Regions from separate parts of the Homo sapiens genome. Here region 2 is reported to be linked to region 1. The links are microRNA targets in miRTarBase. Many come from high-throughput screens and were not tested one by one. Region 1 holds a microRNA gene; the other region holds the end of a gene's coding sequence.

The links. The annotated mature microRNA hsa-miR-760 reads CGGCUCUGGGUCUGUGGGGA and lies in region 1 at 1,778-1,797, shown strand. An mRNA with a match to its seed (bases 2 to 7 or 8) in the 3' UTR can be bound and repressed. Matches are read on the target gene's strand: a 7mer-m8 pairs with bases 2 to 8, a 7mer-A1 pairs with bases 2 to 7 and ends in A, and an 8mer does both.
Region 2: miRTarBase lists LYRM2 as a target of hsa-miR-760. Seed matches in the 3' UTR shown: 7mer-m8 at 2,867-2,873 and 7mer-m8 at 2,859-2,865.

What each region holds. Positions count from the first base shown.
Region 1 is chr1:93,845,103-93,850,279 of GRCh38, forward strand. MIR760 (microRNA 760) reads left to right here and starts at 1,730; the gene lies at 1,730-1,809. It overlaps TRR-TCT1-1 (tRNA-Arg (anticodon TCT) 1-1), which reads left to right and starts at 2,471; the gene lies at 2,471-2,555. It also overlaps a transcript of BCAR3 not described here. RefSeq lists enhancers at 1,021-1,150, 1,826-2,616, 2,831-2,880 and silencers at 1,281-1,340, 1,431-1,810, 1,991-2,130.
Region 2 is chr6:89,632,599-89,637,598 of GRCh38, forward strand. It overlaps LYRM2 (LYR motif containing 2), which reads right to left. Exons shown (of 3, transcript NM_020466.5): 3 at 1-4,755. The coding sequence ends at 4,675. It overlaps ANKRD6 (ankyrin repeat domain 6), which reads left to right. Exons shown (of 16, transcript NM_001242809.2): 16 at 1-1,223. Among named protein-coding and RNA genes, the nearest start is that of MDN1-AS1, 3.4 kb to the right of the region's middle. RefSeq lists an enhancer at 4,897-5,000.

The DNA of each region.
Region 1 (5,177 bases):
TTTCCCAATTCCCCCTTTCCAGAATTTTTATATACGCATCTCAACTGTCACTTAATCACGTCAATGACTCCTCATCATTTGAGATTTGGCTCCAATACCCCAGGCAGAATTCCTCTGTATGGTTTTCCCACAGGCATACAGAGCATCTCTTCTCCCATTTCGGCTGTGAGCAACTCCTAAGACCAGTGGAGACCCTGAGATGCCACCAGTGCCTGGCATATTTCAGAATTCAAAAAAGATTTGTTTAAATAAATACAATTTAAAACCATATTCCATTTTAAAGGCTAATTTTATCCATATGAGAATTCTCCCTGCATGCAATGTGAAGACATTTAATTCATTAAAGGGGCATAACAATTTTATATATATATATATATATATATATATATATATATATATAAAACTTTGTTTACATTAGAGTATAATTAAATAGGCCTGGCACCAATCAGGGCTCTGCCACTTACTGTTTGGAGAAGCGATTCACAATTCGCATCCTTGCACGTTCTTCCTAGATGTGCCAAGAATGCAAGACCCTGATCACGCTTTACTTGGGCCATTTCTCAGCGTTGTGTTTGCAGCGAGCAATCTTGAGGGATGAGGTAATGTCTCCCTATGGAACAAAGAGCAGGCTTGCTTACTGCTCACTATAACATGGTGGGTTCCCCAAGCTCAGCATTCCTCTTCTGTAATGCAACCCATCTTGTGTGTAAGCATGCATCTGGGCCCGTGTGCTTCGTTCCTGTGAGAACTGGGGTCCAGGGAGCCAACTCAAAAATGGTGATACTCTGGCTATTGCTTTTGTTGTAATAGTCTTTTATCTCTGACTCAGAAGTCTGGTGTGTTCTGTCAGCATTCATGAAACCGTGAAAGCTAACGTGTTAGTTTGCAAACATAACAAAATATGATTCATCACAGTTCTCCACGCTCACTAGCTGGGCGTCCCTACACGAGTTTTTTAACCTCTCTTAGCTGCAGTTTCCCTTCTTTATATTATAAAGGGGACGGTGGTGTGTATGTACCCGCCCCATAGCTTCGTCTTGGGGTTAAGTAAGACTGTAAAATCCCTACCACACTGGACTCTTCCCAGGACTTCCCTTTCCCTCTTTGAACTCTGCCAGAGACTATTCTGCATTTGAGGCCTGGCGATGCTGGGCAGGGGCGGGTATGGGTGAAGCACAGGGTGGGCCGCGGCTGGCGGGTTTGGTGCAGAAACGGGCTGTGGCCGAGCCGAGAAAGCGCGCCCAGCGGCCGCCCTGCGAATCCTCCGTAGGCGGGGCCGGGACTGCTGTGAGCTAATAGGAACGGGGGCCGGGCGTTCGGTCTCGCCGCTGCAGTCGCAGAGCAACCACGCGGCTTTGACCGTCTATTTCAAAGGGCTTCGGGGTCTTGCGGATGGGGATCACTGCGGGCACTGGAAACCTGCCGGCCCCCACCCAGCCGCCTCTCAGATTCGTGGCGACCGCACCCTTCTGGGCAGCGGCGCCAGGCCCGCTGCCGTCCCCACCGCTCGCAGCCACCAGGAAACCCCGCGGCCGCGCTCGAGCGCGCGCCCTCCGACCACATGCACCCGCATACGCATGCTCCCAGCGCTCCCACGCGTGCTGACACCCTCCCGGCTTCCGCCCACGCAGTCGCGGGCCCCGGGCGCGCGGGCTCGGGGCAGCTGCGCGGCGTCCTTGGAGGCAGGTGCTGGCGGCAAGACGAGCTCTCGGAGGATGCTGCGGCGCGGGGCGCGTCGCCCCCCTCAGTCCACCAGAGCCCGGATACCTCAGAAATTCGGCTCTGGGTCTGTGGGGAGCGAAATGCAACCCAAACCCCGTTTTTCGAACCCCGCGCAAATAAACACGCACAAGCACGCACACAGACGTCGCGCGGCGGCGCTCGCGCGCAGGTCCAGCCGCGGCTGGGTCGGGCGCGGCGGCCGGGCGCGAGGGAAGAGCCCAGGCCCGAGAGGGGTCGCCGCTTACGTCTCGCAGCCCGAGGGGAGGCCGCTCGGCCTCGGCCGCTCACAGGCGCGACGTAAAGGCCCGGCGTCACCGGCCCGGCTTAACGGTGCAACGGCTGGCCTGGGCCTGCAACTCTGGGGTCCCGGCCGGGCTGGAGCGGCCGCCGGAGAGACCTGGTAGGCGGGGCGCTTGGGGCAGGAAGGGAGCCGGGGAGGGAAAAGCGCGACTGTGATTCGTACGGCTGGGCCCGGACCGTGAAGGGGACCGGGTTGCGGCTGCCCTCACACCGACCAGGTGGGACCGTCGGACTGCGGCCGCCCTTGGCTCAACTGGGTCGCCGACCTTGTTGAGGGGCGACCACTGCGGGGAGACCGAGAGCCTGCGGCTGGCGTTTGAGGCGGATGGCAGTGCCCTGAGCGCGGCGGCTGGGTCTCGGTGACACTGACGACGGGAGGCGCGGTCGGAAGAGCGCGGGGCCGTCGCCTCTGGCTTAACATAGCAGATGCGCTGAGACTCCAACAGGTGGCTCCGTGGCGCAATGGATAGCGCATTGGACTTCTAGAGGCTGAAGGCATTCAAAGGTTCCGGGTTCGAGTCCCGGCGGAGTCGTAACGCTTTTTTCCCTCCCCCCTACAATTTATTTTCTGCCTCCATCATGTCTCTTATTTTTTTTTTTTGCTAAACGGTTTAACTTCTCTCTCATTCCCTGCTCTCGCAGTTCACTGCATTCGGTTCTTGCGGTCCTTTCTTAAGCGGCTCGCAGGGTCCCGAGCCCCTCAGCTCCCCGGGCCTCGGTGGCCCAGGGCCCAGCTCAGCCGACTGGGCAGTCGATGTAGGTCCTGAGAAGAGCGGCGGCGGCGGCGGCGGCGGCGGCGAAGGAAAAGCGACACTGAAGCGAAGGCTCGCGGTTTCGGCCTAAAGGAAAGTGCAGGGGAGGCCCGGGTCTCGGGTGACACCCCCACGCCTTGAGCGGGACTGTGGTTGCGAGGGAGGGACGAGAAAACACGCCTACGCCCTGCGTGCGCTGTGCTGACTACCTCTCCAGCATGGAGGCTTCCAGATGAGCAGACACCCGAATCCCAGCGGGAGCCCGTCAAAAATGGAGATTTCTGCCGTCACTCTGGGACTCTTAATTCGGTCCGTCTGGGGTGGGGCCCAGGAATCTGCATTTCTGATAAGGTCACCCGCTCCCCTCCCCCATTATTCCAGTGCAAAGAGGTCCTAGGCCCAGTGCCCATCAGCTCCTCAAGACAGGAATTACTATATCTTTTTCTGACAACTGTTAACTTTGTACAAGGTTAGCAAATAAATCCAGGAATGAATGGAATCTTAAAACTCGTAAAACAACAATGAAAGGTAATTCACACAAAAGATACAAAATCCAAAATTGTCAAAAAAGATACAGGGAAAAGTAAACATCCATGTTATTCCTATAGTCCAGCCTTGCAATTCTCTCCACAAGCCATTAGTGGTAATGGTTTCTTGGAAATATTTTCAGATTTATTTTATGCCCATATCAGCATTTTTAACATCTTTTGTCATAAATATGTCGTAAATAACAATGTTATTGATACATATCCTTTTAAAAACACAATGGTAGTATGCTATACTGGCTTGTTTTACTTATGAATATATGTAGAGCTGCCTCGTTCCATTGTACGTATGTATGGTAATGATTTAACAGTCCCTAATAGCTGGACATTTAGATTGCCAGTATTTTCCTATTACAAACAATGCATCAGTGAACATCCTTGTTCTTTTATTATTGTACACAAGTACAGGTACATCTATCTGTAGGATAGATTCCTAGAAAGTTGAATTGCTGGTTCAAAGGTTTGTGCGTTCTTAATCTGTACATTTTTTAATATATATTGGCAAATTGCCCCATAGAGATTGTATCCATTTTTCTCTCCTTAGCAATGTGTGAGAGTGCCTGTTTCCCCACAACTCACAAAAGGTGGTTTCTAGCTGTGATTTTAATTCGTCTCTTATATTGATTTTTTAAAATTTGTATTTATATTATTATTATTATTATTTGAGACAGGGTCTTGTTCTGTTGCCCAGACTGGAGTGCAGTGGCACTATCACAGCTCATTGCACCCTCAACGTCCTGGGCTCAAGCAGTGCTTCCACCTCAGCCTCCCAAATAGTTGGAAGTACAGGCACATGCCAACACACCCGGCTAATTTTAAAATTTTTTGTAGAGATGGGGGTCACTCTATGTTGTCTAGGCTGGTCTTGAACTCCTGGACTCAAGAAATCCTCCCATCTTGGCCTCCCTAAGTGCTGGGATGACAGACAGGAGCTACTACGCCTGGACTGTGTCTTTTATTATGAATCAAGATGAGTACCTTTCCATACAGAGAATAATTTGTAATTTTTTTCCTGTGATTTATCTGTTCTTGAGTTGTGTTCATTTTTCTGTGGTATGATGGAAAACAGCCCTTTGTGATATATGTTACACTTATTCTTTTTCAGTCTTTTTGTCGTTTGACTTTGTTTATGGTATTTTGTTTTGTTTTTCTGTCTTACAGAAATTCATGATTCATGTATTTGGATTTATCAGTCTTTTATGGCTTCTAGGTTTGGGGCCATAATACACTCAGATTATTAAGTTATTTCTTTAATGGCTTTATTTTTATGGTTTTGTTTATCTTTGCTTCATCTGGAATGTGTTTTTGTATAAGGAGTGAAGTGGAAGTTTTGTCCCAAAATCACTTTTAATGAACACTCCTTCTTTTCTACACGATGTCATTTGAAATGCCACATTTATAATTTTTTTTTTTGAGACAGAGTCTTGCTCTGTTGCCCAGGCTGGAGTGCAGCGGCACAAATCTCAGTTCACTGCAACCTCCACCTCCCAGGTTCAAGCAATTCTCTTGCCTCAGCCTCCTGAGTAGCTGGGATTACAGGTGCATGCCACTACGCCCGGCTAATTTTTGTATTTTTAGTAGAGACGGGGTTTCGCTATGTTGGCCAGGCTGGTCTGGAACTCCTGAGCTCAGGCGATCCATCTGCCTCTGCCTCCTAAAGTGCTGGGATTACAGGCAAGAGCCACCACATCCGGCCCACATTTATAATTTTCTAAATTCCCACATGCATATGGGTTTCTGGATTCTCTGCTGCATATGGGTTTCTGGATTCTCTGCTCTATTCCACTGACTTTTCTGTTAATTTTGATTCACCAGAACTGTGCTGTTTTACCATTTAGTAGGGTCAGTCCTTGTAGGG
Region 2 (5,000 bases), not on the chromosome of region 1:
AAGGTCTCATGATATTGCCCAGGCTGAATTTGATGTTATTTCAAGTTGATTTTCATGTGTTTGGGAGCTTGTCTTGTTCTCAACTACTACGCAGGTAGACAGTCTTCCCCCAGAGACTCATTAGATTGCAATATAGAGGCACTTTCTCATTTCCCTATTGTTCCTAATACAGAATTGTAGAGCTGGAGAGTACCTTCAGTTTTCTAAATCTATTCTCAAACAGGATATCACTAACCTCTTTAGAATCATTCCTCAGTATACATCAATTTATTGAGAACTGCCTAATACTCAAGAAATTAAATCCTGAGTTCAGTAGGCTGTGTTCCAAGCAGGAATTATTTTCACTTACCAAAATATCTCCTATTACCTCAAGGTATCCTTGTTGAGGAATGCTGAAAACTAAATTTTAAGTATCAAGTCTAGACCATAGAGTGCTTTGGTGGGAGTATTTTGATTACCTCCTACCCATCAGAAGCAGGCAGCTAATATTGTGAACTGAGTATTTTTGTCAAAAGTCACAGGGAAGAGACTACAGAAGAATGAGAAGGGTCAAAAGGACCTAGTGTGGCTTACTACATGGATCTTGTCTCTTGGAGGTCTGTCGTAGAAGAAGAAACAAATAGAGGTGATGAAGACACAGAACAGGCTCAGTCAGCATCCTCACCCAGAGATGGCAACATCTATTAAGACCAATGCAATACCTTTTCATCTTCAGCAAATGTTGTTTCATCTGTTTTTGATCCTTGGCATTGTCAAAAACTTAACTGCAGGTCCAGTGTATATTTTTCCTTATTTTTCCCTTTTAGCTATCTGCTAAAGTGAGTAAATGCCACAACTGTACTTTTCCAAAGAAAAAGAACTATTGACAACTTATAGCCTGTCATGCAGGTCATGTTTCAAATCAAGGCTGAAATTTTCAACAGCTGTGGGAAAAACTAAAACACAGAAATACTGTACAGTATTAGTGTTTTTTTAAAGAAATTGTTAGTGCATTATTGAGTATACTAAATATCTGTGATTAAATAAATTAGTTCTAACTTTTGATTTTGGGAGCCCAAAATAAAGGGAGTGTTGTTTTCATGGTTATGCCTTGTTTGTGGAGTCAAGTGTTGATATACTTGAGGCATGTTATGTGTCTTCTAATTAATATTTTTATCACCTTGAATTTGTGTCTCTTCCAAGCATTAAAGATACTATGGATCTTAAATTCCTTATTAAAAAAATGCAAGTGTGAATACTTTGTTTAGCTTACATTTTAATTTATTGTGGTTGACCACATTTTATGGCTCCTGAGTGCCTTCACCCAGCTACACTTTACCTTGTATCTATAAAAGTGTAATTTAGAGTAAATACATTGGCTGTAAAGTCGCGATCAGGTGCTCTCCACCAAAAGCAAAACAAAACTGCTGAAATGTGGCAAGGTTTCTCAGTGCAAGCTTAAATGTTTAAACTGTTGACCATTTGGAAAATACTGGACAAAGGGGAAGGACAAAACATCATTTGCAATAGTTAAAGGTTATGCAAGGCAAGGCAACATTATACTTTTTGACTAAGTTATTAAAAGTTAAATGCATTTCTTCTTTGAAGTGTGGATTATAAAAGCCAATCAAAGACAAAACCAGTTTGAAAAACCTTTTGTATTCTACAATACCTTTTATGAGTAAGAGTAAAACATACATTTCTTATTTGTAATTTTATTTAAGGAGAAATACTCTTTCCCTTTGATACGACTATAATATTATAAACAGCAAGGAATATGTTCTGCTTTCTGCAATTTTAGAAAGTCATTCCATTCTGGGTGACAGAATGAGGTAAGACTGTCTCTTTAAAAAAAAAAACAACTCACACCTGTAATCCTAGCACTCTGGCCACCGAGGCAGGTGGATTGCTTGAGCCCAGGAGTTTGAGACTAGCCTGGCAACAAAGTGAGATTCCCCCTCCTCTCTCTGAAAAGTAAAAAAAATTAGCCGGTCATGGTGGCACATGCCTGTGGTCCCAGCTAAATGAAAATCTGAAGCAGGTGGATCTCTTGAGCCCAGGAGCTCAAGGTTGCAGTGAGCCATGTTCGCGCCACCACACTCCAGCTTGTGCAACAGAGACCCTGTCTCAAAAAAAAGTCATCTGTGTGTTTCTTGCAGGCACATCTATGGCAATGCTTGTACCATGAATTTAAAACTTCTAACTTGATGGCACTTTTTTATTTTTTTTGAGACAAGAGTCTCACTCTTTCGCCCAGGCTGTAGTGCAGTAGTGTGTTCTCGGCTCACTGCAGCCTCTGCCTCCCGGGTTCAATATGAGGCAGCCCTCCTGAGTAGCTGGAATTACAGGCACGTGCCACCAGGTTAGGCTAGCTAGTGGCCTAGCTAGTCTCGAAATCCTGACCTAAAGTGATCCACCCACCTCAGCCTCCCAAAGTGTGTGGATTACTTGTGTAAGCCACAGTGCCCGGCCTTACCTGCTTTAAAAAACAAAAAAACTTAGGTTTTCTTGGAGTCTGTGCTAGTTGAATCTTGCAAATGCAAACCACATACGCTCTTTAATGAAAACCTTTCCATGCACACCACTGTTAGGAAGAGCATCATTAAATCACTGACTTCTACACCCATAAAAGGATGATTTTGAGTTTCAAGATTTTAGATTTACTAGAGATAGCATGTATCTATCAATCATGTCACACAAAAAATATTTCCAAAGTGTTCTCTGTTCAGAAACGTCACAAATGCTTCTGTTTGTCAGATCATTTTGCAACAGGTTAACTAATACTTATCTACATAAAAACCTGAAAATTGGCACAGGCAGGCATTTTGAATTAGTAGATTACCCCCATGGAACAGTATTCAGAATTATTTTGTCTTGTGGGCTCTGAGGCTCTGGGAGGTAGAGGTGGACCCTGACAGTCCAGGTCATTAACATCCACATTCAGTTGATGCCTCTCAGACACAGTCCAGTACTGGATACCATTTATCATTCTGCAAAATGTTGTCTACATCTTTCAGGTGCTGGTCATTCTTAGATTAGCTTCTTAGCTGTTCTGTTGATAAACAGAAGACTTCAATTTTCAGGATGGATGATTCCAACATCTTCCACAAGCTTTCACTTTCACTAAATTATTTTGTTATAAATTTGATCTCCTTCAAAAGTGCCTTGAAGTCAATTTTGGTTGTAATGTATTTGTCTCTGACGTATTCTTCAAATTCTCTTTGTTTTTTTTCCTGTCATTGGAGAACTGCACCCAGAATCTTATTTTTACTACTTCCATGTGAATGTTAAGGTACTCACAGAGGTTTCATCCAGAAGTCTTCCCTCTTCTTTCTGGTAAGTGCTTCAATGTGCTCATTAAGCTTCTCTTTCTCTTCCCTTTTCAACAAAGATCTAGATTCCCAGTGGTGATCTTTTTGATGAGTTCTCTATCAAACTATGACACATCTGAAGAACGTACCTGAACAACCCTCAGGGATAATGCAGGATTTTTCGAGAAAGTTCCAGGGTATCTCCTGGTGTCAGTATACTTTCAGTCCTACACCTCAAGAGTTTTTTAATAACAGCTTTATTGAGATACAATTCATACCTTACATTTAAAATGTACAGTTCAGTGGATTTGAATATATTCAAGAGTTGTGCAGCCTACACCACAAGCTAACTGTAGGATATTTTCATCACCCTGAAAAGGAACCCTACACCCATTAGCAGTTACTCCATTCCATCTACAGCCAGCCTAGGCAACCACTAATCTTTCTGCCTATTCTGGACATTTCGTATGAATGGAATCATCATGTGATCTTTTGTGACCGGCTTCTTTCACTTAACGTTTTCAAGGTTTATCCATGTTTAGTATATATAAGTCCTTCGTTTCTTTTTAGTGCCAAATAATGGCTATGGGCATGGGGTAGAAGTGCTAACTCATACAGCAGCTGTTTCATCTTTTGAGGAACTGACCGTCTGTTTTCTGAAGTGGCTACACCATTTTACATTCCCACCAGCAATGTATGAGGGTTCTGTAATTTCTGTACATCTTCACCAAGACTTATTATTATTTCTCTTTTTAATTACAGCCATTCTAGTGAATGTGAATCTCAGGGTTGTTTTTTTTTTTTTTTTTTAGAGACTGTCTCACTCTGTCACCCAGGCTGAAGTGCAGTGGCACGACCTCAGCTCACTGCAACCTCCACTTCCTGGGTTCAAGTGATTCTCCTGCCTCAGCCTCCCAAGTAGCTGGGACTACAGGCAATGCACCACCACACCAAGCTAATTTTTGTATTTTTAGTAGAGATGAGGTTTCACCATGCTGGCCAGGCTGGTCTTGAACTCCTGACCTCAAGTGATCCACCTACCACAGCCTCCTAAAGTACTGGGATTACAAGCATGAGCCACTACACCCGACCTCATAGTAGTTTTGATTTACACTTCCCTAATGATTGTGTCCAGCATCTACTGGCCATTTGTTAGTGGTTTTTTTCTTCTTTTAAGAACTGCTGAGACATCCATAAACATTTTCAAAATGCAGGGTATGTTTTTCAGTGTTAAGGCAACTGTTCTGATGTGTTTTTCCTTTGCTCTCTATCACCAAATACTGTACATATAAATAGTAAGACTGGGCTTTGTGTTGTCCATTGTTAATCCTAAATGCAACAAAACACATGGAGACTTTGAAAATCCTTCAGAATAATGCTATAGTTAAGATTTTGCTAAAGCAAGTGTTTTTTCTAACTCCTTGAGCTGCATATTGCCTTGAGTAATCATCATCCGGATTGTATCCTGTAGAATAAAGTGAAATCTGGTTATAGTTTTACCTGGTTAAACAAGGTATAGCTATACCATTTTATCTGTTAAAATCAAGAACCAATACTACCTATTGGAACTGCTGCCTTTTAGAAAAGCTAAAAGAGTTCCACATACATACATATAAAATGTACAACATAAAAGTCAAGTGATGATGCTGAAGAGTGTAGATACTCTTTTATCTACATATTTTAAAATACTAAATTTTAAAATAATAATTT